Homo sapiens: one gene and its partners. The protein of the gene in region 4 purifies or fractionates together with the protein of the main gene of each other region. This does not show direct contact. Each region holds a gene or a part of one and is shown on either strand. Other genes may lie near its edges. The genes, in order: KIF13A, SYNRG, AFTPH, AP1S3, HEATR5B and AP1AR.

Region 1 (4,966 bases), on a different chromosome or scaffold from region 4:
TGTTGAGGCTGCAAGAGAGCTGTGATTGAGCTGCTGTACTCCAGCCTGGGTGACAGAGGGAGACCTTGTCTTCAAAAAAAAAAAAAAAAAAAAAAGTGATCTTTGCAATCTCTGGTTCAGCAGAAAAGGGCCCTTAAAAGACTTTCTGAGGCTGGGTGCAGTGGCTCATGCCTGTAATCCCAGCACTTTGGGAGGCTGCGGCTGGCAGATCACCTGAGGTCAGGAGTTTGAGACCAGCCTGGCCAACATGGTGAAACCCCATCTCTACTAAAAATATAAAAATTAGCCAGGCATGGTAGTAGGCACCTGTAATCCCAGCTACTCGGGAGGCTACGGCATGCGAACTGCTTGAGCCCGGGAGGTGGAGGTTGCAGTGAGTCGAGATCACGCCACTGCACCCCAGCCTGGGCGACAGAGTGAGACTCCGTCTCAAAAAAAAAAAAAAAAAAGACTTTCTGAAGATGACAGCAAACTACACAGAAAAGACAATAAGTGAAAAAGAATCCCAATATTTTAGGGCTAAATTATCAAGCTACCTGTGCTATCTCTTCTGTTTTTCTCAGCTTCTCTTCCCAAGTCACTGTTAGTTCTTTTATCAGCTTTTCAGACTCTTCGAGCTTCTCCTTCAGTTCAGGGGCCTTCATGGCCTTTAAAATGAAATCAGAGATATCTGATGTTCAAAATTTTTCCACCATCATATACAAGACAATCAGTTACTGTCCCTCTTAAGCAGTTATCAATAGTCTGTTGGAAAAAATTAAGTTATATGCTGTTAGGGTGGGTTTTTAACCTTTATTAATCAAACGAATGTAAGAGAACATGGCTGTTCCCTGAAAAAGAAATACCAGTGTCCTGAATGAAAATGAAACAAATCATTAGTCATTTTATCCATTATACTTAAATTTCACATTTAAAGCCCTAAAAGATGCTAACGTTCAACTTTGAAATAGATAAGCAGGACAAAAGGTTACTTAAGCAGACTTCTTTTTCAATAAGACGGAGGTTAACACTCATCATCAATAAATGAATTCCAGTTAAATTAATCTGCTAGAAAAGGTAAAGACTTCTCATGTATTTTAAATTTTGAATCTGGGCCTTTAGACTACCTTTCTCCACTGATGGTCATGCATTTTGTTATTTATCATTATCATTCACCCAGAAGCAGCACAGCTGGCTAAAAAGGCAGTGGTTTCCCTTCTAGTTTGTTCAGGGAGAGTAACTAAGAGGTTTCAATACAGATACTTGCAGCTTAACAAAATTTTGAGGGGAGAGGCCTTTACTTGTCAATAATATGCTTTGACACCTTAAAGTAACATGAGCCTCTACAAAGTTAAAACTCTATGAACAAGAAAGATGGCAGAGCTTGGACAAGAAGCTGGGATGTGATGATCTGGAAGCTAGCTGAGTATGCCTGAGGCTCATGGTATTAACAGAGCCTGACAGTGGCATTTAGTGCTGAGTACAGTGGGACATATATGAAAATTATAGGCCAGGCCAATGGCTCCTGCCTGTAACCCCAACAGTTTGGGAGGCTGAGGTGGGTGAATCACTTGAGACCAGCCTGGCTAACATGGCGAAACCCTGTCTCTACTAAAAATACAAAAAAAATTCACTGGGTATAATGGCGCATGCCTGTCTGTAATCCTAGCTACTTGGGAGGCTGAGGCAAAAGAATCACTTGAACCCAGGAGACAGAGGTTGCAGTGAGCCAAGATGGTGCCACTGCACTCCAGCCCGGGCAACAGAGAGACTCTGTCCACCCGCCCCCGCCAAAAAAAAAAAAAAAAAAAAAAAAAAAAAAAAAAAAAAAAAAAAGAAACAGAAAAAGAAAATTCTAGGTGGACCTATGTGGCTGGCTCTTCTTCTGTTTCCTTCAGCCAGGTATTGCTTGAGCCATCTCGCCCAGATTATGTGGTCACAGTAAAAATGCAAATAAGTAGATAATCCACCTATAAACACATTGCAGAACCATTATACTTTCCTCCTAGCATCATGACTATTTTCAAGGTTTATCAGCATTTTTATTTTTCTGGTGTTTTGCTACCCTTCTTACAATCTATCTGAAAATTATACTTTATGCACTGAATGATTATAAATTATAATAAAAATCAGCAACATTTATTGAGAACTTACTATGTGCAAGGTATTGTGGTAAGTGCTTTCTAGTATCAATGTTAGGCTAGGGGTTGGGGATAAAAAAATCAATAAAACACAGCATCTTGTACTTTAAGAGCCACAGCCTGGAAGAAGAGAAAGATATATAAACAAACAATTACAATGTAATGCCAAGATCACCAATTAATAGAGTATTCAGACTCTTGGCTTCACCTTTTTGTTTTTTCAGTCTTCTATTGATTACTTTTTGATAAAATATGCTGATGGATAGAAGTATTAACATAGTGCCTGGCATGTAAATGCTCCATAAATAATGGCCATTAACTGTGTTTTTCTTTCTTTCTTTTTTTCTTACAACTTAGTACTCTCCCAACTACAGTGGGGTCAGAAGAGAGTGGTGAAGGAATGTGAACTTAGAAGTGTCAGATACACTCCCAAGTCCTGGCATGTGGAACCCTGTGACTTAAACTAAGGCACTTGGCCTCCAAAGCTGTCCTCTTAAATATTTCAAATAAGACAGTGCCTCACCCAATAATTTGCAAAAAGCAACACCTATTTAGAAGAGTATATCATTATTAAAGTTTCAGTAAAGCCAAAGAAAGAAGATAACAATGCAAAAAGATTTTGTTTCTTGTCAGGGCCTGATATAAATGGAAAAGAAAAAGATTTCTGAATTATTCCTAATGTTTAATTATCTTTGATCACGCCGTTTCCACAGCTTAACAAGGAGATAACACCTAACTAAATTCTCTGAAAATTGCAAGGCCCTGTGGAAATAATAGTTTATAATGTTAATATAAACAACATACTTTCCCACTGAAAGTTCAAAGGCCAACTGATTTAGGGAAGCAAATGATCAGGTAGTAGCAGGAATTATCTCTTATTTGTTTGTTTCCATGACTATAAGTTCCTAGGACAGAGTATGGTATTACTCATGTTGGTCCTCACAATGCTTAGCATTTGGCAGATGCCAATAAACACTGAAGTGCTGAACCACATTGAGATGATGTATTAGTCAGTTCTCACATTGCTATAAAGAAATACCTGAGATTGGGTAATTTATAAAGAAAAGGGGGTTTAATTGGCTCATGGTTCCACAGGCTGTATGAGAACTCACTATCACGAGAACAGCAAGGGGGAAGTTCGCCCCCATGATCCAATCACCTCCTACCAGGCCACTCCTCCAACACTGGTGATTACAATTCAACATGAGATTTGGGTAGAGACATAAATCGAAACCATATCAGATGACCTACAATTGCAAATGAGCACACCCTTGCCAGTCAAATCCCGCAAGCCAGGGAACTTTACCAGCAGGGAGTACCAGGCTGCTTTTACCTCTGCCTGAGAGAGCTGCTCTCTCAGTTTCTCGACTTCCTCCCGCAGTTCTCGGATCACTTTTGCGTTGGGGTCCTCATTCACAACAGCATGGTTCACAATCCTTTTGGCTCGGTCTGCATATCTTAATGTGGAGAGGGTCTCTTCATAGTTGTCTGCGGCTGGGCTGATTGTGGCTATCATAGAGGTTTGGCTGTTGCCCCCCAAGTTGTCCTGCCAAGTATTTCAAACAGCATCTTAGGAAGCCCATTCCATGGACAACACATATGATAAAAGCACTAAATGTGTTAGGTATGACATTATTCTCTATGAAGGAAACATTATGTGGAAATGGACTTGCATTTCACAAATAACGTCATGACAAGATGAAATGTGTCCTCTCTATATTCAAGCAATGAATAAGGCCTGTCAAACAGCATTCAAATGGAATAAAAAGGAGTAGAAAATAGTTTTCATTCTGTGTTCCTAGGAATTAGAATAACTGTCATCAGGAGAGTTCTTTAGGTATTTGGTTAGCTTTGTACACACCTTTACTCTGTCACATCTGGAATAGCCAATTTTTAGTTGGAAAAGAACACTAGAGCAATGGATTACCTTAAGCAGCCAAGTGAGGACTGAATCTCGATAAGGCACAAATTTGCTTTTACCCTTGCCAGCTGCCTGGTCAGCCAGTGATGATATAACCAACCCCAAGGTTGTAAGCGATCTGTCAAGAAAAAATGAAAAATTAGTTTTATGGAATGTTTATTTGGTTTAAGTATAAAATATGCAGAACAATAAAGCTCCACAGTTAATACACGTTGGTGGCTCACGCCCGTAATCCCAGCACTTTGGGAGGCCAAGGTGGATGAATCACTTGAGGCCAGGGGTTTGAGACCACCCTGGCCAACATGGTGAAACTCTGTCTCTACTAAAAATACAAAAAATTAGCTGGGCGTGGTGGCAGGTGCCTGTAATCCCAGCTACTTGGGAGGCTGAAGCAGGAGAATCTCTGGAACCCGGGAGTTAGAGGTTGCAGTGAGCCGAGACTGTGCCACTGCACTGCAGCCTGGGCGACAGAGTGAGACTCTTTCAAAAAAACAAAAACAAAGAAACCCCAAAAAACCAAAATATCATAAAAAGAAAGTGCTTTGTAAATGGTTTAAAAAGTTAAATGCAGCTGGGAGTGGTGGCTCACACCTGTAATCCCAGCACTTTGGGAGGCTGAGGCAGGTGGATCATGAGGTCAGGGGTCAGGAGATCAAGACCATCCTGGCCAACATGGTGAAACCCCATCTCTACTAAAAATACAAAAATTGCCAGGCGTGGCGGCGTGTGCCTATAGTCCCAGCTACTCGGGAGGCTGAGGCAGGAAAATTGCTTGAACCCGGGAGGCGGAGGCTGCAGTGAGCCAAGATCGCGCCACTGTACTCCAGCCTGGGCGACAGAGCAAGACTCCATCTCAAAAAAAAAAAAAAGTTAAATGCTACTACAAATAACAAAGAAGGACACAAACTAGCAAGTGAAAGACTAG
Region 2 (4,966 bases), on a different chromosome or scaffold from region 4:
TGAATGCCTCATGACATAAGCATCTGAAGAAGAGGGTCGTGGGCTGGGCGCGGTGGCTCACACCTGTAATCTCAACGCTTTGGGAGGGGAGGCAGGCAGATAACTTGAGATCAGGAGTTCGAGACCAGCCTGGCCAACACAATGAAACCGTGTATCTACTAAAAATACAAAAATTAGCCAGGCATGATGGTGTGCACCTGTAGTCCCAGCTACTCAGGAGGCTGAGGCAGGAGAATTGCTTGAACCCAGGAGGCGGAGGTTGCACTGAGCCGAGATCACACCACCGTACTCCAGTCTGAGCGACAGAGCAAGAATCTGTCTCAAAAAAAAAAAAAAAAAAAAAAGAAGAGGGTTGTGGTAGCGAGGAAGAGCCTCTGCCTGAACTAAGGTGAGTAGCCAAAACCTTTGACTGTATTATCCCCTTCTCCCAGGATCACACAAGAGGAGTTTGAGCCTTGGTGATAAAGAAATAAGCCGTTCTTCTCCTTCTCCAGCTTTGGAGCAGCCTTTCAGAGACCGTTCCAATACTCTGAATGAGAAGCCCGCCCTGCCCGTCATCCGAGACAAGTACAAAGACCTGACGGGAGAGGTGGAGGTGAGAGGAGAGCTTTCTACAAGGGGTGGGTAACAGACCAGCAAGCACACAGGGCCCCAAGAAAGAATGCTGTCAGCTTTCACATGGGGAAAATGAGGGGCAGAAAGACACAAAGCACCAGACATAAACTATGTAATTAAAGTGAGGCAAGGGTAACATTAGCCCTGGGTGAAAACATTTCCCAGGTGTGGCACCCACTGAAACTAATCAGTGACCCTAAAACCAAAACTATTCATGGGACTTCACAAGGATGGCAGTGTTTGTATAATTCTTCTTGAGCACTTAGACTTTATTGTCTTCATGAAACCTCAAAATAGAGGAGACAGGGAAAATATTCTGAATTTTTTATTTCTGTCTGCTGCATCTTAGTGCCACGCTATGTTCCTCCTATGGTCAACACACTTAATTTCCCACCTTTCCCTACTCCTTGTTACATGTGCACATGGGCCACGTCCTCACACACAGCCACACAGCGTTATAACTGGGGCGTGGAAAGCCAGTGGCTTAATAGCAGTTTCTGTACCAGATAGCTACATGCTGAGTGCCTCCGAAGAAAGGCTTACACTGTTACTGATGGAACAAATGAGGCAACACTCACAGGGGGAAGCTGCTGGAAAGCATGTCCCTTAGACTCACAGGTCCTGTGCTCAGAAGTTACATTTATTAGTAATTTAACATAGTTATTAGTGAGTTCAAAAAGATAAACTGCGGCTGGGCATGGTGGCTCATGCCTGTAATCTCAGCACTTTGGAAGGCCAAGTCGGGCAGATCACTCGAGCTCAGGAGTTCAAGACAAGCCTGAGCAACATGGTGAAACCCCACCTCTACCAAAAATACAAAAATTAGCCTCATGTGGTGGTGCGTGCCTGTAGTCCCAGCTGCTCTGGAGGCTGAGGTGGGAGGATTGCTTGCGTCCAGTGCAGTGAGCAGAAATCATGCCACTGCACTTCAGCCTGGGCAACAGAGCAAGACCCTATCTCAAAACAAAAACAAAAACAAAAAAAACATAAACTGCTTGAACTAGAGTGATCGTAATAAAAAGGAAAGTCCTCCAAGCACTTTGAATTGACAGAGTCATCAATAGAAGATTCCAGGTTTGTGTGTTTAACCCAGTTCTTTTTAACAAATTCACAGGAAAATGAGAGATATGCATATGAATGGCAGAGATGCCTGGGGAGTGCCCTGAATGTGAGTATGTCACTTACGCGTTCACACATATGTGAGTGCTCTTTTGTGCCTTTTTGCCTTCTTGGTTCATTTGAATTGACAGAGGCAAACTTCAGGAGAGCCTTACTTGGATGTCCCTGGGCAAAGAGTAACTCTGTGGAAGTCATGCATCTAAGGTGAGGCTTCTTTCACACTTACAATAGCAGACCGGCTCATGTGTCAGTCATCCCCTCATCTGTCATTGTGTTTAAGAAATAACAAAGTGATTTCATTAACTCTGACTAAATCAAAATAATATTTAAGCTAAAGAACCTGTCTTGGCTGGGTGCGGTGGCTCAACACCTATAATCCCAGCACTTTGGGAGGCCAAGGCGGGCGGATCACGAGGTCAGGAGTTTGAGACCAGCCTGACCAACATGGTGAAACCCTGTCTCTACTAAAAATGCAAAAATTAGCCAGGCGTGGTGGCACGTGCCTGTAATCTCAGCTACTCAGGAAACTGAGGCAGGAGAATCACTTGAACCCGGGAGTCAGGGGTTCAGTGAGCCGAGATCTTGCCACTGCACTCCAACCTGTGCTACAGAGCGAGACTCCGTCTCAAAACAAAGCAAAACAAAACAAAAGGAAAAAAACATATTTTCTCTTCCAGAGAAATGGAGGATTGTTTCTTCAAGGATAAAATGAGATTTTTTGACACCTCCTGGCTTTTCGGTTGGGTTTTCTACTAATAGTAAATTGATTTGCAATGACTTTTCTCAGTTATGTAAGGTGATGTGATTTCATTTCTTGTAGGTCATTAAGAAGGCAAATGATACCTTAAATGGAATCAGTAGTAGTTCTGTTTGCACAGAAGTAATTCAGTCAGCTCAAGGCATGGAATATTTATTAGGTATGTTCTTTCATATTTTACTATTGAAAATGATGGCCCTTTGCATTATTTTCAGTTTTCCCTTTAATTATTTTAAGCTAGATCTCTCAAGTTACATATGACTTCAGTAAGAAGCATCTGTATTTGTGGGTAAGACACTCAAGCTACAGGCAGTAAACTATTGGACTTAATTAAAAAGTCTCTATGGCTAAGTTTCCTCATCCTTGTTATATACGTAATAGCAAAAATGTAAAATTATATCTGTGTTACTGGTTTATCAAAGAATCTGAACTACCGATGCACTAAAGTAAAATCATCTTGTCTCCCATCAATTCCTTACCATACTCTATATTCTTTCTCTCGACCGCTTAATGACACCACAGAGTCCTTAACCTCCTGGCCATCTGCAGCAATTTGATGTGTCAGTCCAACGGGAAAGTGTAGTCTCTGTCCACTTCGGTGTTCCTCCCTTCCCCAAGCTCAGGCTTGGCCCGTGGCCAGAGCCACACATGCTGGACCCTAATCTTTTTCAAATCTTTACTCAAATGTCAGCTTCTGAGTGAAATCTTTCCTAGCATCCATCTCTCCAAAGAGTATCGTCTCTCCCTACCCCGGTACTTCCCATCCCATTCTCTGCTGGATTTTCTCCTTAGCCCTATTACCTTTAATTTCTTACATATGTTACTTATTATTCTTTTCTTTTCTTTTCTTTTTTAAGACAGGTTCACACTCTGTCACCCAGGTTGGAGTGTAGTGATGTAGTCATGACTCACTGCAGCGTCCACCTCCCAGGCGCAAGCAATCATCCCACCTCAGCCTCCCAAGTAGCTGGAACCACAGGTGTGCACCACCATGCACCCAGCTAATTTTTGTAGTTTTTGTAGAGACAGGTTTCCGCCATGTTGCCCAGGCTGGTCTCGAACTCCTGAGCTCAAGCGACCCACCCACCTTGGCCTCCCGAAGTGCTGGGATCACAGGCGTGAGCCACTGCACCTAGCTACTTGTTGTTTTTACTCTCTGTCTCCCTTCACTAGAATGAACCTCCAAGAAGGCAAGGATTTTGGTCTGTTTTGTTCACTGGTGTGTCCCCAACACCTAATCTAGTGTCTTGCACGTAGTTGGCACTCAAAAATATTTGCTGGATGAGTGGAGAGTGAAGGGATGTAGTCTCTGCCTTACTCCTGCCACCTCACTTGGGGTCTTCTTTTCCTGCTCAAACAGGCACAGTTCTGCATAAGCAGATGTCCACCAGGAAATGGGGCACCTGTCTTTTCTCCTAGTATCCTTGTATCTATGGAAGATTCTCTTAGAAGCCCCCTCACTTGGCTTAGGGTGGGCAGTAATTTCTGCCCCTCTCTTGGGAAAGGAAGAAGAAAAGCCGTAGTGCTGACACAGGGCTGCTGAGGCCCCGCTCTGAAGATCCCCTGGAATTCCTCCAGTGTTCACTTAGAGAGATCGGGGTCATGTCTTTGGTGACTGTTACATTGCAGGGGTTAGGGATGTGTCTGGTGGCTGTCCTTAGAATGTGGAGGTACTTAGCACCTCTCATCCTTGCTTCAAGAGTTCAACCACAATTTAGAGACCATAGGAAAAGAACTGTTCTGCATCCTGTTATGTGTTTAAAGATAAGTGAAGTCAAAGTGTTTGTAAGACCTTCAGATTCAGAGGGGTGAGATGTTTCTTCATTACTTTGTGATGCTATTAACATTTAGATTCTTTTAAATTTTTACTATCCCCATTTTCAGCTAGTTTATTGGGATTTCCCAGATTCAAACAGATGGACTCATAAATAAACCTCCCAAAAAACAAAAGCTAATAACTTGCATAGTGCCTGCCATTCTCCAAGCACTGTTGTAAGCCTTTTACCATATTACCCTATTTAATCCTCTCAACCATCCTTGGAGGAGCTACTGTTACCATCCCAACTTCACAGATGAGGAAACTGAGGTACAGAGAGATTATGTGACTTGCCTAAGGTCATGTAGCCAGTAAGAGGCATAGCTGGGGTTTGAACCCAAGCAGTGCAGCTTCTATGCTCTTACCAGTAAGCTATACAGCAGCATTGAGAAGTGGATTGGTCCCAAAGAATAGTAAGTACACCTCTGTCCAGATACACCCATTGTTTCTCACAGATATCAGCAAGCAATAATGCTCCCCTGTCTGGGTCCTCTGTGTCTCCACTGCCAACACTCTCTCTCTGCTCTCTCATCCCGTCAGGTGTTGTTGAAGTGTACAGGGTAACCAAGCGTGTGGAGCTGGGGATAAAAGCCACTGCAGTGTGCAGTGAGAAACTCCAGCAGTTGCTGAAGGACATCGATAAAGTATGGAATAACCTA
Region 3 (4,966 bases), about 160 Mb from region 4:
TTTAAGAAAAACTACTAAAACAATTTTTTCTAAAAATAAGTATTGATTAGAGAAAAATTTAGGTAGACTGATGTTTAAAAGTCAGCACATTCAATATAAGTGAACATTTAAACCAAATATTTATTTTCTGAGGAACTAGCTTACCACAGCTTAAACAGAAGTATGACAGAATTTTAAAACATCCACAGGTTGATTAAAAGATTTTTCAAGGTACTAACAAACTCACAATGTTTCGGGTGTCTATTCCCAAGGAGGACAAAAGCTTCTTGTTGCTATGGGAGCCGCCCCACTGGTATCTCAAGCCATGTGCATCATGGATATCCTGTAGCTCAGTCCACACATCTAGCAATTCCCTGCAAAGGCCATGATGAAGCCATCAACAACAGGTTACTCAATAACTTTCACCATGAGTTCTACTTATAATATGGCTGTGACATAACACACATTCCATTTACTCTTGGGTCCAACGTAAGTGTATAACTATTTGAATGAAATCAAGAGCCAATACTTATAGTCACTAGAAAAATAACTAAGGCTGGGTGCGGTGGCTCACGCCTGTAATCCCAGCAATTTGGGAGGCCGAGGCAGGCGGATCACCTGAGGTCAGCAGTTCTAGACCAGCCTGGCCAACATGGTGAAACCCCATCTCTACTAAAAAATACAAAAAATTAGCCAGGCATGGTGCTGGGTGCCTGTAATCCCAGCTACTCGGGAGGCTGAGGCAGGAGAACTGCTTGAACCCAGGAGGCAGAGGTTGCAGTGAGCTGAGATCACTCCAGCCTGGGCAACAGAGCGAGACTGTCTCAAAGAAAAAAAGGTATTTCACTGTGAAATTTCAGAATATCAGCAACAAACAGATCTTAAACTATAAATTGAATGTGAGAGTAGAGTAAAAATTTGCCTCCCATCTACCTTTTTTCTCAGAAGGCTATTGGAGGATATGCTCCACCAAAATGGGATCTAAGTGAAGGGAAGTCCCGAGGCAATGTATGTGTAAGCCCAGACTGAAACCATTCTAGATGGGAGCAGAATGATAAGGTGTTGGATCACAAGTGTATGAACAAGCTCTTAAAGGGTAGGGAAACATTAATGAAAAAGAGAAGTCCAGGAAGAAGTTGTACTATAAAGAAAACAGTGGCTTGAGTCAACAATACATACGTGATTATAATAATGAAAATGCCAAATAAGAAATTAACCAAAAACTGATATATGGGGAAGATGAGGGGAGGAGAATAGCAGAGGTAAAATCTAAATTTTCAGTTTTCATTCTAAGAAGTCAAAAAATAATATATAACATCAACTGATTATTGATTTAGAAATATAAAAAGAAATAGCTCAAAAGTAAAAAGGCAGGGAGTTTAGGTTTTGACACAATGTTTTTGAGCCTTAATTTTTTTTTTTTTGGAGATAGAGCCTTGTTCTGTCACTGAGGCTGGAGTGCAGTGATCTTGGCTCACTGCAACCTCCGTCTTCTGGGTTCCAGCGATTCTTGTGCCTCAACCTCAATCCCAAGTAGCTGGGATTACAGGCATGTGCCACCATACCCTGCTAATTTTCTGTATTTTTAGTAGAGACAGGGTTTCACCATGTTGGCTAGGCTGGTCTCAAACTCCTGACCTCAGGTGATCCACTGCGCCTGGCCTGAACCTTAATGTTTTAAGATAAACTTATAAATTAGAACTACTAAAAATAACAAAAACACATGCTATCTAAAAACAGTCTCCTACTTACCCACTTTCAGGTAAGGCCTCTCTCGTTTTTATTGGCAAAGTGCTTGTTTCCAGCAAGTGCTTCAGGGAAGTAACTTCCTCTTCAGCATCAGGGACAAGTATGGAAGGAAAACATGCTTCGAAAATTCGCTCCAGGCGGTTTAATAAAGCTGTCTGCATCAAAACACCCCCCAAAAGTTTATTTTCATTTAATTTTGATAATATCATAGTTATAGCATTAAAATGCAAACACACGCACACCCTGTCCACTACTGTGAGAGAGGAAGAGAACCATCAGAAAACACTGAGTGAAAAGAACACAACTACTCATGAAACAATCACTCTAAATGATTAATTTAAATGATGATGATGAGCTACGTAGCTGGCAATTAAAAGCAACATGCCAAGCAATATACCTGCTACTTTACATGCATTATCTTAATCTATTACAAAATTCTACAAAAAAGAAATTACCCAATTGTACAGTGAGAAAGCAATCTCAATGTCTGAATAATCTGCCCAAAGCAAAACCAAAAAAACCCAGAGAGCATTTATATTCTTTCCACCACACTGGAATGTCTCTTACTACCACTCATCTACTCTAGATTTAGGAACAATAAGATTGGATGCTTGTGGGAAGTATTATGCTATTATAGCTAAACAATCTTTTTTTGAACATAAACATGAATTTTGATAGCCTTTTGGAAATATCTTTGCTGCTAACAGTACAAACCAAAGTAGCAAAGAATGTCTCAATTTTTACTGATAAAAAATTCGAAAGCTCATTCATCATTTTGGTGATATGCATTATCTTTTAGAAATTCCATTTCTCTACTCGTCTTTGTTGCATGTATATTTTTGAATAGAATACTACACTACCTCTCTCCCAAGTAAAGCCTGCATATTCCCCAGAGTATTTCCACCAAGAACAAACAGATACATTTCTTGGCTTTTTTTTTTTAAAGTATTTTTATTAACTAAAACTTGCTGGATTTAGATCAACTTAGTTTTGGTACCACTAGGTTTACTATACATGTGCAACCTACAATAACATTCATTCCTATTTTCCTAACTATTTCAGATACATGTAATATATTTTCCAACTTAGCCCAATTTACCATTTAAACATCAACTGGGAATACAAATTGTTATTAAGTTAAAGCCTGTTGTAAGATTAAGTTTACTATTGAATTGACACAGACTGTAAAAGCAAAATGCCACATCATGGTGGTACTTCCTGCCAAGTAACAAAAACAAGTTGATGCTTGATTTCTGTTTTGTAGTGTAGTGAGCACCCAGGAAAATTAAAAAAAAAAATTTCATAACATTTTCTGAACCCAAATCTCTTTTGGAAGCTGTATCAGAGCAAAAACTTAACACTGCATAATTAGTCTTAGGGTACTCTTTTGTAATTCTACAAAAGTTATTCTCACATCATAATTATATTCATGTGTGTGATATTGGAAAAGGTTCTCACTATCAATTATGAACCCTAAGTAAAGGGTAGCCTCAAGATCCCAAGGCCTGTGAAACTTGAGTGCATCAAGGGGCCCTTGCTCTCACTTGCCTCAACAGAGAGAACGGACAGACATTATTTTCAAAGGGATCAGATAACCACCTAATTGGATACATGATTGGCTCCTCCTGGGCAGGGAAGGTAAACAAAAAACTAACATGGCCAAATTTTATTTCTCTGTAAATTAAATCTTTCTTGTATCCTCTTTGTTATCTTTTTAATGGGATAGGAAAAAAATGTTTACCACAGGAAGAAAGAAATGACCCTAAAACACATCCAACCACTTGGGCAATGTTACACATAACTGCCAGGTGTCAAGACACCAGTAAAATTCTCAAATGAGTGGAATGAAGCTGAGGCAAAAAAGGATGTAAGTTGAATGGAAATTTCTAAAGAAAGTTTCATATATGTTTAGGATCAGATATTACATTAGATTGCTTCAAATCTTACGTTGAATAAGATAGAGCAGGAGATTAGCAATCTTTTCTATAGAGAGCCAGACAGTAAATATGTTAGGCCTTGTAGGCCATATGTAAAGGAATAAGCATGGGTATGTTCCAGTGAAACTTATTTACAAAAACAGGCAGTAGATTTGTCCTGTGGGTCATGGTTTGCCCCTTGAGGTAGAGCAGTAAATAATAAATAACCAGAATCCACTAACAGCATTGCCCAACACAGGGAGGGAAACTCCTCAACAATTCAGCAACTAATAGAATGAACAAAGGCTTTTTTTTTTTTTTTTTTTGAGATAGAGTCTCGCTCTGTCACCCAGGTTGGAGTTTAGTGGTGCAATCTCGGCTCACTGCAAGCTCTGCCTCCCAGGTTCACGTCATTCTCCTGCCTCAGCCTCCCGAGTAGCTGGGACTACAGGTGCCCACCACCGCGCCCAGCTAATTTTTTGTATTTTTAGTAGACGGTGTTTCACCATGTTAGCCAGGATGGTCTCCATCTCCTGACCTCGTGATCCACCCACCTCGGTCTCCCAAAGTGCTGGGGTTACAGGTGTGAGCCACTGCGCCCAGCCCAAATATTTTTATTAAATTTACTCTGACATTTTATTTTTAAAAGTGTATCAATTTCCAGCCAGGTGCAGTGTCTCACGCCTGTAATCCCAGCACTTTGGGAAGCCGAGGCGGGTGGATTGCTTGAGCTCAGGAGTTTGAAACCAGCCTGGCCAACATGGTGAAACCCCGTCTCTACTAAAAATACAAAAATTAGCAGGGCATGGTGGCGCACGCCTGTAGTCCCAGCTACTCAGGAGGTTGAGGCATGAGAATCACTTGAACCAGGAGAGGTGGAGGTGGCAGTGAGCTGAGATCATGCCACTGTAGTCCAGCCTGGGTGACAGAGCAAGACTTGGTCTTAAAAAAAAAAAAAAAGTGTATCAATTTCCATAAGACCAGTTTGGTGGTAAGGGCATCCTGTAATGAGTTTCTCACCACTATCTTGTTTTGGGTAATAAATAAGGCCAAATTTAACTTACTACTAGTTAATTCCAGTAAGTAAATGACTGGTATAATAACACTTCAATAGAGGGCTATAGATCCAGGGGCCAAGACTCCAGTTTCTGCATTTATTTATTTTATTTTTTATTTTTTATTTTTTTGAGATGGAGTCTTACTCTGTCACCGAGGCTGGAGTGCAGTGGTGCGATCTCGGCTCACTGCAACCTTGGCCTCTCAGGTTCAAGCGATTCTGCTGCCTTAGCCTCCCAAGTAACTGGGATTATAGGCGTCTACCA
Region 4 (4,966 bases):
GGAGGCAGGGGTCGCAGTGAGCAGAGATTGCACCACTGCACTTCAGCTTGGGTGACAGAGAGAGACTCCGTCTCAGAAACAAAACAAAACAAAATTAATAACTTAGGACTCTATTCATATTTCATAGAGATGCTTTTTTGTTTTTGTTTTTTTAAGACAGGGTCTCACTCTGTCATCCAGGCTGGAGTTCAGGGGCACAATCTCGGCTCACTGCAACCTCTGCCTTCCAGATTCAAGCAATCTTTCCACCTCAGTCTCCCAAGTAGCTGGGAATACAGGCGAGCACCACCACGCCCAGCTAATTTTGAGATGCTTTTTTTGAACTTTGCTCAAGAGGCTATGCTTACTATGCTAAACTCAACACCCTGCATGGTAATGACCACTTAATGGTTATTAAGAACTTTCATTTTCTTCCTACTCAACACTCATTAAAAATCTATCCCCAGGGCCTTTTATACCTTGACAAAGATGACTTCAGTTACAAGCAAAATTTTGTAAGAGGCGGGCAATGGTATATCCATCATACCCTTTCAAAGTTTACCACTAACAAACTTCAAGCATTCATCTGAGAGACCAATCTGCCTTATTGTATATTCAAGTCTTGCCCTTCCCCCATAGTTTTTGCAAAGATGGTTGATGTAGACTAGATTATCGTGAGACGGAATGGACTTTGAAAGGCGGGACTCTCTTATGTAGTGGACTTAGAACTGAAGACATGACTTCTTAGTAATGAAACTGAAGGTAAGTACTTGTTTATACAACAAAATTAAAAAGTTCTATACAGACTTCTGAATCATACTTTAAAAAAAAATGTGATATTACTGTAACCCTTACCTTCCCCTACCTCCCCAATATCTGCAGTCCATAATTTTGTTTTGTTTTGAGATAGAGTCTCACTTTGTCGCCCAGGTTGGAGTGCAGTGGCACGATCTCAGTTCACTGCAACCTCCACCTCCTAGGTTCAAGCTATTCTCCTGCCTCAACCTCCGAAGTAACTGGGATTACAGGGGTTTGCCACCACACCCAGCTACATTTTTTTTTATTTTCAGTAGAAACGGGGCTTTACCATGTTGGCCTGGCTGGTCTCGAACTCCTGATCTCAAGTGATCTACCCACCTCACCCTCCCAAAGTGCTGAGATTATAGGCATGAGCCACTATGCCCGGCCGATTTTGTTTATTTCATCAGTTTAAATAAATTTCTCAGAGGAAAAAAAAAAATCTAAAGTATTTTCATTAGCTTTTCCCATTTCTCTTAGAAATAGCCCTGGCTAGGCTGGGCACTGTAATCCCATCACTTTGGGAGGCCAAGGCGGGCTGATCACCTGAGGTCAGGAGTTCAGGACCAGCCTGGCCAACATGGTGAAATCACGTCCTACTTAAAATACAAAAATTAGCTGGGTGTGGTAGCAGGTGCCTATAATCTCAGCTACTCAGGAGGCTGAGGCAGGAGAATTGCTTGAACCCAGGAGGTAGAGGTTGCAGTGAGCCAAGATCGTGTCATTGCACTCCAGCCTGGGGTACAAGAGCAAGACTTCATCTAAAAAAAAAAAAAAAAAAAAAAAAAAAAAAAAAAAGAAGAAGAAGAAAAGAAAAAGAAATAGCCCTGGCTAGCATTTATGAAATATGTTCCAGGTGCCAGGCCCTGTGCTGATTGAACCAAGCAGTCTTATTCCACGCTCAGGTGATCTCATGAAATGGGATGAACCAAGTATCTAAGATCAAAGCGCTCACACAGGGCCCTGGGGTCATTCCCCTCACCACATTCTCCTCTCTCTCTTTTTTTTTTTTTTTTTTTGAGACAGACTCTCACTCTGTTGCCCAGGCTGGAGTGCAGTGGCACAATCTCGGCTCACTGCAACCTCTGCCTCCCAGGCTCAAGCGATTCTCTTGCCTCAGCCTCCCGAGTAACCGGGGTTATAGGCGTGCACCACCATGCCCAGCTAATTTTTTGTCAAGGCCAACACTGCCCCCTACCCCATGTGCCACATCTGGGTCCCCACATGGCCCACCTGCAACTTCCCAGGAAATAAAACTGAGATGACTCAAGAATGCTTAATATCAAATTCTTCTCCTGTGTGATTGATCCAAAATATTTACAGAGTTGAGAGAACTCCTCACCAAGAATGTGAGCTCCGTGCAAGCAGGTGGCTTCTGGCTTGTTCAACACACTCTCTGAGGCCCAGACCCATGGCTGGTTTCTGTGGACACAGGGTCATTACATGGAGAAGCCCTGCATTCAGAAGGACCCAAAACTTGGTTTAATGCTCTGCTGTCACTATCTTGAAATTCCTGGTAAACTTTGAAAAAGGGATCCTACATTTTATTTTTATTTTATTTTTTTGAGACTGAGTCTCACTCTGTCACCCAGGCTGGAGTGCAGTGGCGCGATCTCGGCTCACTGCAACCTCCACCCTCCGGGTTCAAGCGATTCTCAGCCTCCCGACTAGCTGGGATTACAGGCGCCTGCCACTGCACCCAGCTAGTTTTTGTATTTTTAGTACAGATGGGGCTTCACCATCTTGGCCAAGCTGGTCTTGAACTCCTGACGTGGTGATCCACCAGCCTTGGCCTCCCAAAGTGCTGGGATTACAGGCATGAGCCACTGCACCCAGCCAGGACCCTGCATTTTCATTTTGCACTGGGCACTGCAAATTAGGTAGCCAGTCCTGCCTGTCATGGGGCAGGCATCCAAATTATTTGTCCAATATACCTATGATGAGTTAGTGGAAGCTGCCCTAGAAAATGGGTCAATAAGCCATGACTTACAGGCCAAATCTGGCCTTCTGCCTGTTGTTGTAAATAAAGTTTTATTAAAACACAGCTCCAGCCAGGCACAGTGGCTCATGTCTATAATCCCAACACTTTGGGAGACCAAGGCGGGAGGATCACCTGAGGTCAGGAGTTCAAGACTAGCCTGGCCAACGTGGCAAAACCCTATCTCTACTAAAAATACAAAAATTAGCTTGGGAGGCCAAGGCGGGGGAGATCACTTGAGGTCGGGAGTTCGAGACCAGTCTGACCAACATGGAGAAACCTTGTCTCTCAGGAGGCTGAGGCAGGAGAATCACTTGAACCCAGGAAGCAGAGGTTGTGATAAGCCAAGATCACACCATTGCACTCCAGCCTGGGCAACAAGAATGAAACTCCATCTCAAAAAAAAGTTAAAAATTAGCTGGGTAAGGTGGTGGGCACCTGTAATCCCAGCTACTTGGGAGACTGAGGCAGGAGTATCACTTGAACCCAGGAGGCAGAGGTTGCAGTGAGCTGAGATCACACCACTGTGCTCCAGCCTGGGCAACAGAGTGAGACTCCATCTCAAAAAAAAACAAAAAAAAAACAAAAAAACACAGCTCCATCCATTTGTGTCTTGTCCGTGGCACTTTCACTCTACAACAGAAGAGTTGAGGAATACTGAAAGACTGTAGGGTCCACAAAGCCTAAAATATTTACTATCTGGCCTTTTACGGAGAAAGTTCACTGTCCCCTGCTTTAGTAAATTGTCTCTCCAAATTTTCTATCCAAATAACTGTAACAGCAGGAAAGGCAGGTGGCCTCATGAGACCAGGAGGGTAGCCTAAGCTGCAAGCCATAAACAATATATGTCTTAGGGTTTGTATGTATGAATTTTGCATCCGGGAGCCAAATATATTAGTGTGTTAATACAAAAATATTTTCTCGGCTGGGCGCTGTGGATCACACCTATAATCCTAGCACTTTGGGAGGCCGAGGCAGGCAGATCACTTGAGGTCAGGAGTTCAAGACCAGCCTGGCCAACATAGTGAAACCCTATCTCTACCAAAAATACAAAAATTAGCCGGGCGTGTTGGCATGCACCTGTAGTCCCAGCTACTCAGGAGACTGAGGCAGGAGAATTGCTTGAACCTGGGAGGCAGAGGTTGCAGTGAGCCGAGATTACGCCACTGCACTCCAGCCTGGGTGACAGAGTGAGACTCTCTCTCAAAAAAAAAAAAAAAAAAATTATCATTCTGAACAATACTCCAGGGATGAGTCAAATTTATCCCTTGACAACCCCTGTCTACAAGGATGAGTACGCAGAAGGTATGGGCACCCCAGTTTGCAAACCATGCCTTCATTCCTCATCTTTGATATACCCAGTGTGGAAGGAAGTCTCCTGTAGCATTTCAGTGTCCACTGAGCTTCAACCCACACCAATCATTTCTTACCAGCCCAGAAAATCCTGTTAGAGAAGATCCAACAAGGACATTAAATACAGAATCTCTTGTGCACTTATTCTTAACTGACTGTACTAGGTCCATGCCCCATCGCACTGAAAGACTAAAGTTTCAGAAGCTACTGAGAGCCAGGAATTTCAGAGCCCAGAGATGCCTGTAGGAAAGTTTTTAGAAGAGGGATGTTGGCAGAGGCCAGTTTCCTCATGATTGTCGATAACATTCTATTTCTAACTTGAATGATTTTCAGTATCCCCTTTTCATTGTTAAGATTTTTAATTTACCTTATTGCTAGCAGCGATACAAGAAATACATTTTTTTTTCTTTTTAATAGAGACTGAGTCTCACTGGTCTCAAACTCCTGGGCTCAAGCAATCCTCCCTCCTCAGCCTCCCAAAGTGCTGGCATGAGCCTCCAACCCTGGCCCCTTTCTCTTTTGGAGATAGGATCTCACTCTGTCACCAAGGCTGGAGTGCAGTGGCACAATCATGGCTCACTGCAGCCTTGACTTCCTGGGCTCAGGTGATCCTCTCATCTCAGCCTCTCAAATAGCTGGGACTACATGGGTGCACTACCACGCCCAGCTAATACTTTCTGTATTTTTTCTAGAGATGGGGTTTCGCCATGTTGCCTGGGCTGGTCTCGAACTTCCAGACTCAAGCAATCCACACACCTTGGCCTCCCAAAGTGTTAAGATTACAGGCGTGAGCCACCGTGCCCGGTCAAGAAATACATTTCCTTAGTCAGGGTGCTGGCTGGATAGTTTCATATGCCA
Region 5 (4,444 bases), about 190 Mb from region 4:
GATGGTGGCACCACTAAAAACCATTGAACTGTACACTTTGCTGGGATACAGTGGCATGATCACAATTTATTGCAGCCTCAAACTCCTGGGCTCAAGCAATTCTCCTGTCTCAGCCTCCTGAGTAGCTGGGACTACAGGAGTGCACCACTGCGTCTGGCTAATTTTCTTTTTGTTTAACGTAGAGATGAGGACTTGCTGTGTTGCCCAGGCTGCCTCAAACTCCTGGCCTCAGCCTCCCAAAGTGTTGGGATTACAGGTGTGAGCCACCATGCCCAAACTGAATTGAGTTGTATGGTATGTGAACTGGATCTCCATGAAGTTGTTAGCGAAAACAAAAACAAAAACCAAGGAGAATAATTGTGGCAATGCAAACCTGAAATGAAAAAACAACCAGCGCCAAGTGTGGTGGCTCACGCCTGTAATCCCAGCACTTTGGCAGGCTGAGGTGGGAGGATCATTCAAGCCTGGGTGATTGAGGCTGCAGTGAGCCGTGGTCATGTGCCACTGCACTCCAGCCTGGGCAAAAGTGAGACCCTGCTTCAAAACAAAACAAAACAAAACAAAAATGAAAAGAAGCTGGGCATGGTGGCTCACGCCTGTAATCCCAGCACTTTGGGAGACAGAGGCAGGCAGATCACCTGAGGTCAGGAGTTCGAGACCAGCCTGACCAACATGAAGCCCCGTCTCTACTAAAAATACAAATTAGCTGGGTGTGGTGGCGGGTGCCTGTAATGTCAGCTATTCAGGAGGCTGAGGCAGGAGAATTGCTTGAACCCAGGAGGCGGAGGTTGCAGTGAGCCAAGACCGCGCGACTGCACTCTAGCCTGGGCGCGACAGAGAGAGACTCCATCTAAAAAAAAAAGAAAAGAAAAAAGAAAAGAAAAAAACACCCAAAAGTCAGTGAGAAAACAGGCAAGACAAAGTACCTATCTCAGGTATCTAAAAGGCTGAGTGGAGTTCAAGTGTAGTGAGCTATGATTGCACTCCAGTCTGGGCAACAGTGCAAGACTCTGTCTCTAAAAGAAAAAGGAAAAGAAAGGAAAAGAGAAAAGAAGATAAATGTTCAGAAAGTGACTTGCTTTTGATAATACTTGTTCAGTCTGTTACACTGTGCGGTAAAACTTGGTGTTTAAAATTTGCTAAATGCTGTGGCAAACATTCATTGTGTGAATTATCTATTTCGTACGGTAAAATGCCCACTACATGAAAGAATGGCATCACTGTAATTATGCCTAATTCATTTTTGTATCCCCTGCAGCACTTAGCTTGATGCCTTATACACAGTAGGCATTCAATAAATATTTGATGAAGGAAACTAACCATCATAGCCAGAACTTGAGGTTCTGTAATTACAAAACATAACTGAAGCCAAATTTTAGCCATTAAAAAAAGCAGAATATTATATTACATTTAAACATTTTAGTGAACCTTTAAATGAGAATTTTAATTGTTACCAACTAAAATATACATAGCATAATTTAGTAATTTGATATGAAAGCTAAAAGATCCATCAGAAAGATAAGGACATTTTGGGAAATGCTTAGAAAATGCTGTGATTTTATTCATAGTATATACACCACAAAACAGACACTTTCCATTATTTTGATTACTTCAAAATTTAAAATCTGCTTGTTTTTCAATTGATTTTTTTCATGACAGATGCTGAGTTCTGACCCATTTTTTTCCCCTGACAGTATCAATAGGCTGCCCGACTACATGATACAATTGTTTTTAGCATTTAAATTTAAGACTATGGCTCAGTGTTTGAAAAATAAATAAGTTAACAAAAGAGAAACATTATTAGGAGGAAAATGAAAACATATTCACCACATGATAAAAAAAATCACTCCTTAAAAATCAATAAGTGGTGTGAGCATTATTTCACTTAACCTACTTGGAAGCACTATAATACCAATATACAAATAAAACAGAACCCATAGGTAGCCTGGAATGATACAGTGGCCATCACTAATTAGGGGCTAGTTGACAACATAAATACAAATAAATGAAATTACAAATTAAAAAAAACTTGTTTTTAGCTTAATTGTTGGTGCAGAATGTATGGCGGGGGCTGGTTGTCTGGCAGCCGCTTTAGCTTTGCTCGCTTGGCTTGCTCGAACGGCAGTTTCTAGACGCACTTTCAACTCAGGAGCAGCCCCCATTACTGTCTTGAAAGCATGTGGATACAGAGGTCCAATATGCATTAAATTCTGGAGTGCAAACTCATGAAGATCTTTGGAAGCTGAACTTGCTGAGGCAAAAGAATTTTCATCCAGCAGGTAAGATATCAAAGTGGGAACTAAAAGAGCAAGTAGCTGGACTCCTGTAAATAATAAAGTATGAAAAAAGATCACAAACATAAGGATTATAATAAACTTTAAAAACTAGGCAATTGCCATGGAAGACTGAACATAATAAAATATAAGTACACATGCACAGCCTACTTTAGACCTCAATAACTCGTAATTAATATTAAATATTTACTAAATGTACAAGCTGGAAACCAGGTTTGTTAATATTGTATATTTTACATTTATATTAATTTGCTTTACTTAAAAAAAAAAAAGGGCCAAAGGTTAAAAAGTAATAAAACACTTTACAATTGCCACCTGGTAGAATGTATCTTGAGAGTAAGATTATAAAATTTTTACGGGCATTCTAGAATCAGGAGATTGGAGTGAGGAACAGAAACCTGAAAAGCATCTATTTACCATTATTTAACTAACACTAGTTGTTTCTTTCCTCTTTAAGTAGAAATACAATACAACTTTTTTCCTATTTCATCATCCCCCAAAACTCACAGTGAGGGGAAATTCCTCAAAACTAAGGGAATACATAAGCTTAGGGTTAAAAAAACAAGAACCTATGTCCGACTGATATAAATTCCAAGTCCTTAAAAAAGTATTTATTTGGAGGCTTCATCTCCTTTTGTTAGTCTTTTGTCTTTACTTATATTAACAACTCCATCCTGGGATATAAGTTTCATTAAAGGTGATTTTTTTTAACAATTAACCTTTATATGTAATTGTGTGTGTGTATAACATCTCATAATCACATTGAGAATTACGCGTTCTCCCCCTTAATTACTGTTAATTTTTGTAGAATGACAACTGACGCAATTGTAAGGCAGGAGGAAGCATCTGGTAGAGAATGTGTGACACTCACTGATGTCAGCAAGGACAGTGATAATAATCAGTGAAGCCTTTCCAGAATCCCAGTTCCACCCTGGACCTTACTCCCTATTTTCTTTCCCTGCTGTATTTTTTTCTTCACAGCTCCTATCAATTCCTGCATCTAACTATAGATGTTATATCTACATCTAAAATTGATATATCCATCATCACTATATAAAATTGCACAAAGATACATGTCTACATATAACAGACACAGATACACACACACACACACACACACACACACACACACACACACACACACACGTATAGGGGACGAGAAGTGTTTATTGTCTGTGTTTTCCTACCAGAAATGTAAGCTCCATGAGATCAGGGACCTTTGCCTGTTTTATTTCACGAGAAATTCTCAATGCCTAGAACACTACCTGGTACACAGCCATCCAGTAACTATGCTTTGAATGAATAAACATACATACTCTTTCTCTTGGCAACTACCCAGAAGTTTCCAATTAAATGGATTTGTTTCCATATTAAGTTTTCAGAAAAGAGGTAAAAAGCTTATTTTTAAAGTCCCAGGTAAATCCTCCAATCTTCTAGATTTAGTTCAATTTCCCTCATGTACAATGTTAATAGTATTATAGGGGTAGGCGCGGTGGGCTCATGCCTGTAATCCTAGCACTTTGGGAGGCCAAGGTGGGCGGATCCCCTGGTCAGGAGTTTGAGACCAGCCTAACCAACATGGAGAAACCCTATCTCTACTAAAAATACAAAAAAAAAAAAAAAATTAGCCGGGCATGGTGGCGCATGCCTGTAATCCCAGCTACTAGGGAGACTGAGGCAGGAGAATCGCTTGAATCTGGAAGGCGGAGGTTGTGGTGAGCCGAGATCGTGCCATTGCACTCCAGCCTGGGCAACAAGAGCGAAACTCTGTCTCAAAAAACAAAACAAAACAAAACAAAAAAACCCAAAAATATTAGCTGGGTGTGGTGGCACATGCCTGTAATCCCAGCTACTCTGGAGGCTGAGGCAGGAGAATCGCTTGAACCTGGGAGGCAGAGGTCTCAGCGAGCAGAGATCGTGCCATTGCACTCCAGCATGGGCGACAAAGCGAGACTCCCTTTCAAAAAAAAAAGTTAATAGTATTATAAAAGCTGGCTTTCATAATAAAAATAAAGTAGAGAATTATAAAATATATATAAAATTATCTTCAGTATATTGGCTTGCTAAATTGGAAGAGGTTTCAATAGTAGGTTTTCAACAGTAGGTTGAAAATTAAGGTTTTGGTTTTAACAATTTTAAAATATAACTGG
Region 6 (4,966 bases), on a different chromosome or scaffold from region 4:
CAAGTTCCTTATTCATACTTTTTTTTATCTTAAAAGGCAATTTCACTCCACTTTAAGAAATGAGGAGTATCAACCATGAATCGCCCCAACTTTGTGGCAACCCCCACTTACTTACATATATCCTTCCTATTCTCCTCACCATCCTCTAAAGAGGAATGTTCTTAACTTGTTCAGAGTCACCTACTACATTTACACTCTTGACTCACTCACCATTGAGCCCATCTCTCCTGCCCCACTCCAGGCAATTCTCTGGGACCTTGTTCTATCAATTAGTACCTCTCTTTTACCTTTAACCTATTCCTTTTGTCTGTTTGCACCTCTCTTCCATGTGAAGGAAGGAAGGAAGAAAGAAGAAACTAAGGAAAAAACCTCCATTTGACCTGTATCTATCTCAAGCTACTGCTCCCTCTTTTTTTCAGCCAAGTCCTGAAATTAAATGTATAATATCAATAGTCAGCATACCTAGCACTTACTATGTGCCTGGCTCTCTTCTCAATGCTTCACATATATTAGCAAATTGTAATCCTCACAACAACCCTCTAAGGTAGATATAAGGATTATACATATGAGGGAAGTGAAACGAAGACAGATTAAGAGTATGGCTAAGTAAGTCATATAGTATGTGGCAAAGCCAGAATCTGAACCCCAGGTAGTGTAGCTCTTGTTCTTAACTACTGTTCTTCTCTTGCCTTCATGTCCTTACCTCCCATTCACTTGTCAACTCGCTGCAGTCTACCTCTGCTCCCATAACTCCAATAACTCTAGCAAAGGTAATCAATGGCTTCTATGTTGCCAAATACAATACACAATTTTAAGTCCTTATCTTACTACCTCAGTTTCATGGGACAGTGTTAACCATTCCCATCTGTCTGTCTGTCTCCCCTCCCTCGGCTTCCCAAGCTCTCCTGGTTCTTCTTTTTGCCTACTACTTCTTGGTCATCTTCAGAATCCTCTTCTAGTGTCCGCCTAGTCAATCCTCAGATCCTTGCTCTCTCACCATGCTCCACCTCTCCCCAAACCCCCACCTCAGTTAGGTGATCTTGGTAACTATCATGGTTAACTAGCCATTTATAGGTATTATCTCCTACTTCTGTCCCTTCAGCTCTAACTTCTGCTAGCCCTAGTTATATATTAGGGCTTTAAAATTTTTTCTTTGAAGTATAACTTAAATAAAATGAAATATAGATTTTAAGTGTTCAGTTCATAAAGTTGTTTTGATAATTGTATACACTCATGTAACTTCCACTGGAAGCAAGATACATAACACTTCCATCACCTCACATACTTTCCTTGTGCCCCTTTACAATCAATTCTCTCACTTTGCTTATGAAATTTCTAATGTCCTCCTGCTCTGCCTGGATAGTTAGCATTAACCAACCTTTCAACAATCAACACCAGGTGTTATCCCCTTAAAAATGTCTTCTTGGATTTTGTTTTGGGCAAACAGCCTCTTCTCTAAGGTTCCCTAGAATGTTCTATAATCACTATTTAATTGCTTTCCCTACCTCATATTGAAATTAGTCATCTCGAGAATCTATCTCCCAGACCAGGATGTTCTTTCTTCTAATGGAGAGACTATGTCTGATTTTTAAAATCCCAGTGTCTAGCACGGTGCTTGGCACACGACAGTTGCTTAATAAATGTTTGCTAAACTAAAAAAAGTAAGGATTATTTGTTCATAATATAACATTGTATATGAAAACTATTCTCTTGAAATTAAGAATGCTCTTTTGACTTAAAGATACTTCAAGTAACACATGCAATTTTAATAAAATATTTAAAAGCTGCTTAAATAATTATAGCATAAGGTTTTAGTTACTATTAAAAGATGTGAAAAAATTTAGTAGAATAAGTTTTAGAATGCATAAGGAAAGAAAGGGGCAATAAAGTTAAAAAATTTAAAAGAAACGTACTTATCAGTATTAAATGGTTTTAAGAAAACTAAAAAACATATAACAGGTACAACAGGAAAGCATCTGGGCACTTACATTAAATTCTTTAATATTCAAAACAGTCTTTTGAGATATATGATATTTGTCTCAATCTTATAAAAAGAAAAATCTGAAAGTTCTGAAATGTAAACTGTTTAATGTCTCAAAGCAAGCAAATGATAAAGCCTGACTTCTTAAGAGAGTTTTCTTACAGTTTGCATAGAAGTTTTGTTTTTTTTTTTTAACAAAGCCTTACCTATGACTGCTTCCTGGGCTCTCCCCCTGTACAAAAATTAATTAAACAATTAAAACAAATTCATTAGCTAAATTCTATTTAAAGTAACCAATACAATTTTTATTTAATCTAAATACTTTCAACTTACCCATTTTTTATCAGAGTAAATACATTTCACTATTAAATATATTTCACTATTAAAAATATTTGAAACAAAAAGCTTTAAAATTTTGCTACTTCTCCAAAGCAAAATTTAGTTTACTATCTAGCTTAATTACATAAAACCATTTGCTGGACATTTCTTAATTTTTTTTAACAAATATTTGTTACATACCAAATGAACTGTGGTCAGTATGGTATGAGACAACATATTCTCTATGTTCTCATTTATATTAACAGTTGATCCTCATTTTTTTGCAGTTTCTATATTTGCAAATTTGCCTACTTGGAAAATTTACTTGTAACCACAAAATCAATATTTGAGCTCTCTTGGTCATTCAAGGACAGGCATGGAGCAGTAAAAATTTTGAGTTGCTCAGCAATGCACATTCCCAGATGAGGTAGAACAGGGCGACAGACACTCCGCTTTCTTGTTTCAGCTCTCATGCTATAAACAAGTATCCTTTTTACAGTCTATTTAATGCCACACTGTTTGCATTTTTGTGCTTTTTTGCTGGTGATTTCTGTTTAAAATGACCTCTAAGTATTCCAGTGTTCCTAAAGTCCAAGAAAGCTATGATGTGTGTTATGGGGAAAATATGTGTGTTAGGTAAGCTTCATACAAGCATGAGTTTGTGCTATTGGCTGTGAGTTCAAAGTTAATGAATCAATAATATGTGTTTAATACAGTGTCTTACACAGAAACGCACATTGAATGAGGCTATATACTGATTGGTTGATGAACATATTGTGATCAGAGGCTTGCAGGAACCTAACCTTGTATTTCCCCTGCAGTAATGCTTCAGCATTCACTAATTTAGCATTTACAGCAACTTAAATACAATAATGAGAATCAACTTTTTGTTTTCTTTCACAAGGTTATGAAATTATCTGTAGTTTTTTCCTCCAAAGCAAAGCATAACTATTTTCAGGATTTATTCAGGTTTATGCCTATTTCTTACACATTTAAACTATTCATAACTGAAAGTTAAAATATAATAGCAGGAATAAAATTCCAAATGGTCCACATTAGTTTAGAAAGTAGCACTACAAAACAGGATGACATTCAACTAAACCAAACACAAAATATGAAGTAAATTAGAGAGGAGAAGAGGGGTTAGCAAAAACAAAAATTAAAAAATCCTCAGCCAACCAAACAAAAAGCATCTTAGGAAAATCCATGGAATCACGAGTTCTCTTGAAAAGTGTTACGATGCTGGGATGAATTCTACTGGAGGCTGAAAGAAGGCTTACTTTTAACACTTGTCAGATGCTTTAAAAATATCATGTCCAGTGTTTGCTTAAACTTTTTAAGAGAAAGACATGAAGACAAAAGTGACCTCTGCGAAGGGAAAGAAGTAAGTTCTATGAAATGGAATGATATTTTACTGGGAGAACAAACGGCTAAAATAGTTTCCAAAATGTGTCCTATCAGATGAAAAATATGTATTATTATTTTAAAAAAGGATTTTTACCCACGTTAATTTAAGAAGAGCTGAGTTGAACAAGTTTAAATAATTCAGTTTAACAATAGTTTATCTCAATCTTTTACATGCTAATTTACACTCTGAGACTAGTATTCTATACATACTCTGAGAAAGGCTGGACTAAAGAATACATTTTTAAAGGAAAAGATTAATACATTTTCTTCTTTCCCTAGAAAACAAAAACGACAGTGTCAACTTTCAGTGTTCTTCTAGTCGAACCAATTTTAAAGATGTAGAAAGTAGACCCAGGGAGGTTAAGTAATTTGCAGAAACGTACACAATTAATTTAGTGAAGTTGCAAATTAGCATACAAACTAAAGTTCTAACTATACGAATGCATAAGAAATGCTTCTTAGCCTTTTGACTAAGATCAAATGTTGAAATATACACAATTTGCTGATTCTAAAATGCACTCCCTTCTCATTTTTAACACTTCTGTATTTGAGAAGCATCTTAAAACTTGCTGAGTTGTATGAGATGAAATGTAGAAAATCAACATAAAGAAAAGATAAAAGAGATGATGGCTAAAGTCAGAAACTGTAGAATAAACATGTAGAAAATCTGACATCAGAATCTATGAAAACTATAAAGAATAGGCCTACTCCAAAGCTGGGTGAAGTGGTACACACCGATGGTCCCAGCTACTCAGCTGAGGCAGGAGGACTGCTCAAGCCGAGGAGTTTAAGTCCAGCCTGGGCAACATAGCGAGATCTTGTCTCTTAAAAAGAAAACAACGGCAACAACAACAAAAAGCAATGGGTCTACTCTGGATTGTTAGGTATTTTACCTACTTAATGGCAAGAGGTTAGAAATATTAGAAATACAACTTTCTGAAGTTCCTTGGGTTTCTGTATAACGCTTTAAATCCTGTGTGTGTATATAGTGTATCTTAGATAGTAAAAAAATTCGGAATTGGCTGGGCGCGGTGGCTCACACCTGAAATCCCAGCACTTTGGGAGGCCGAGGCTGGCGGATCACGAGGTCAGGAGATCGAGACCATCCTGGCTAACATGGTGAAACCCCGTCTCTACTAAAAATACAAAAAATTAGCCGGGCGTAGTGGCGGGCGCCTGTAGTCCCAGCTACTTGGGAGGCTGAGGCAGGAGAATGGCGTGACCCGGGAGGCGGAGCTTGCAGTGAGCCGAGATCCCGCC

Evidence for each region.
Region 1: the proteins of AP1S3 (region 4) and KIF13A purify together in Homo sapiens (affinity purification with mass spectrometry; one large-scale study listed by BioGRID and IntAct). This does not show direct contact.
Region 2: the proteins of AP1S3 (region 4) and SYNRG purify together in Homo sapiens (affinity purification with mass spectrometry; one large-scale study listed by BioGRID and IntAct). This does not show direct contact.
Region 3: the proteins of AP1S3 (region 4) and AFTPH purify together in Homo sapiens (affinity purification with mass spectrometry; one large-scale study listed by BioGRID and IntAct). This does not show direct contact.
Region 5: the proteins of AP1S3 (region 4) and HEATR5B purify together in Homo sapiens (affinity purification with mass spectrometry; one large-scale study listed by BioGRID and IntAct). This does not show direct contact.
Region 6: the proteins of AP1S3 (region 4) and AP1AR purify together in Homo sapiens (affinity purification with mass spectrometry; one large-scale study listed by BioGRID and IntAct). This does not show direct contact.

The regions. Positions count from the first base shown.
Region 1 is NC_000006.12:17,833,425-17,838,390, forward strand, and holds part of KIF13A (kinesin-like protein KIF13A), read right to left. Parts: intron 4,160-4,966; coding exon 4,048-4,159; intron 3,667-4,047; coding exon 3,454-3,666; intron 648-3,453; coding exon 537-647; intron 1-536. UniProt on the Homo sapiens protein: Plus end-directed microtubule-dependent motor protein involved in intracellular transport and regulating various processes such as mannose-6-phosphate receptor (M6PR) transport to the plasma membrane, endosomal sorting during melanosome biogenesis and cytokinesis.
Region 2 is NC_000017.11:37,536,009-37,540,974, reverse strand, and holds part of SYNRG (synergin gamma), read left to right. Parts: intron 1-431; coding exon 432-595; intron 596-1,729; coding exon 1,730-1,783; intron 1,784-2,554; coding exon 2,555-2,651; intron 2,652-4,847; coding exon 4,848-4,966. UniProt on the Homo sapiens protein: Plays a role in endocytosis and/or membrane trafficking at the trans-Golgi network (TGN). May act by linking the adapter protein complex AP-1 to other proteins. Component of clathrin-coated vesicles.
Region 3 is NC_000002.12:64,564,479-64,569,444, reverse strand, and holds part of AFTPH (aftiphilin), read right to left. Parts: intron 3,596-4,966; exon of another isoform or gene 3,455-3,595; intron 1,884-3,454; coding exon 1,732-1,883; intron 354-1,731; coding exon 227-353; intron 1-226. UniProt on the Homo sapiens protein: Component of clathrin-coated vesicles.
Region 4 is NC_000002.12:223,826,519-223,831,484, forward strand, and holds part of AP1S3 (AP-1 complex subunit sigma-3), read right to left. Parts: intron 1-4,966. UniProt on the Homo sapiens protein: Subunit of clathrin-associated adaptor protein complex 1 that plays a role in protein sorting in the late-Golgi/trans-Golgi network (TGN) and/or endosomes.
Region 5 is NC_000002.12:36,979,472-36,983,915, forward strand, and holds the end of HEATR5B (HEAT repeat-containing protein 5B), read right to left. Parts: intron 2,324-4,444; coding exon 2,019-2,323; 3' UTR 1,424-2,018; downstream 1-1,423.
Region 6 is NC_000004.12:112,255,019-112,259,984, reverse strand, and holds part of AP1AR (AP-1 complex-associated regulatory protein), read right to left. Parts: intron 2,214-4,966; coding exon 2,188-2,213; intron 1,653-2,187; exon of another isoform or gene 1,526-1,652; coding exon of another isoform or gene 1,506-1,525; intron 1-1,505. UniProt on the Homo sapiens protein: Necessary for adaptor protein complex 1 (AP-1)-dependent transport between the trans-Golgi network and endosomes. Regulates the membrane association of AP1G1/gamma1-adaptin, one of the subunits of the AP-1 adaptor complex.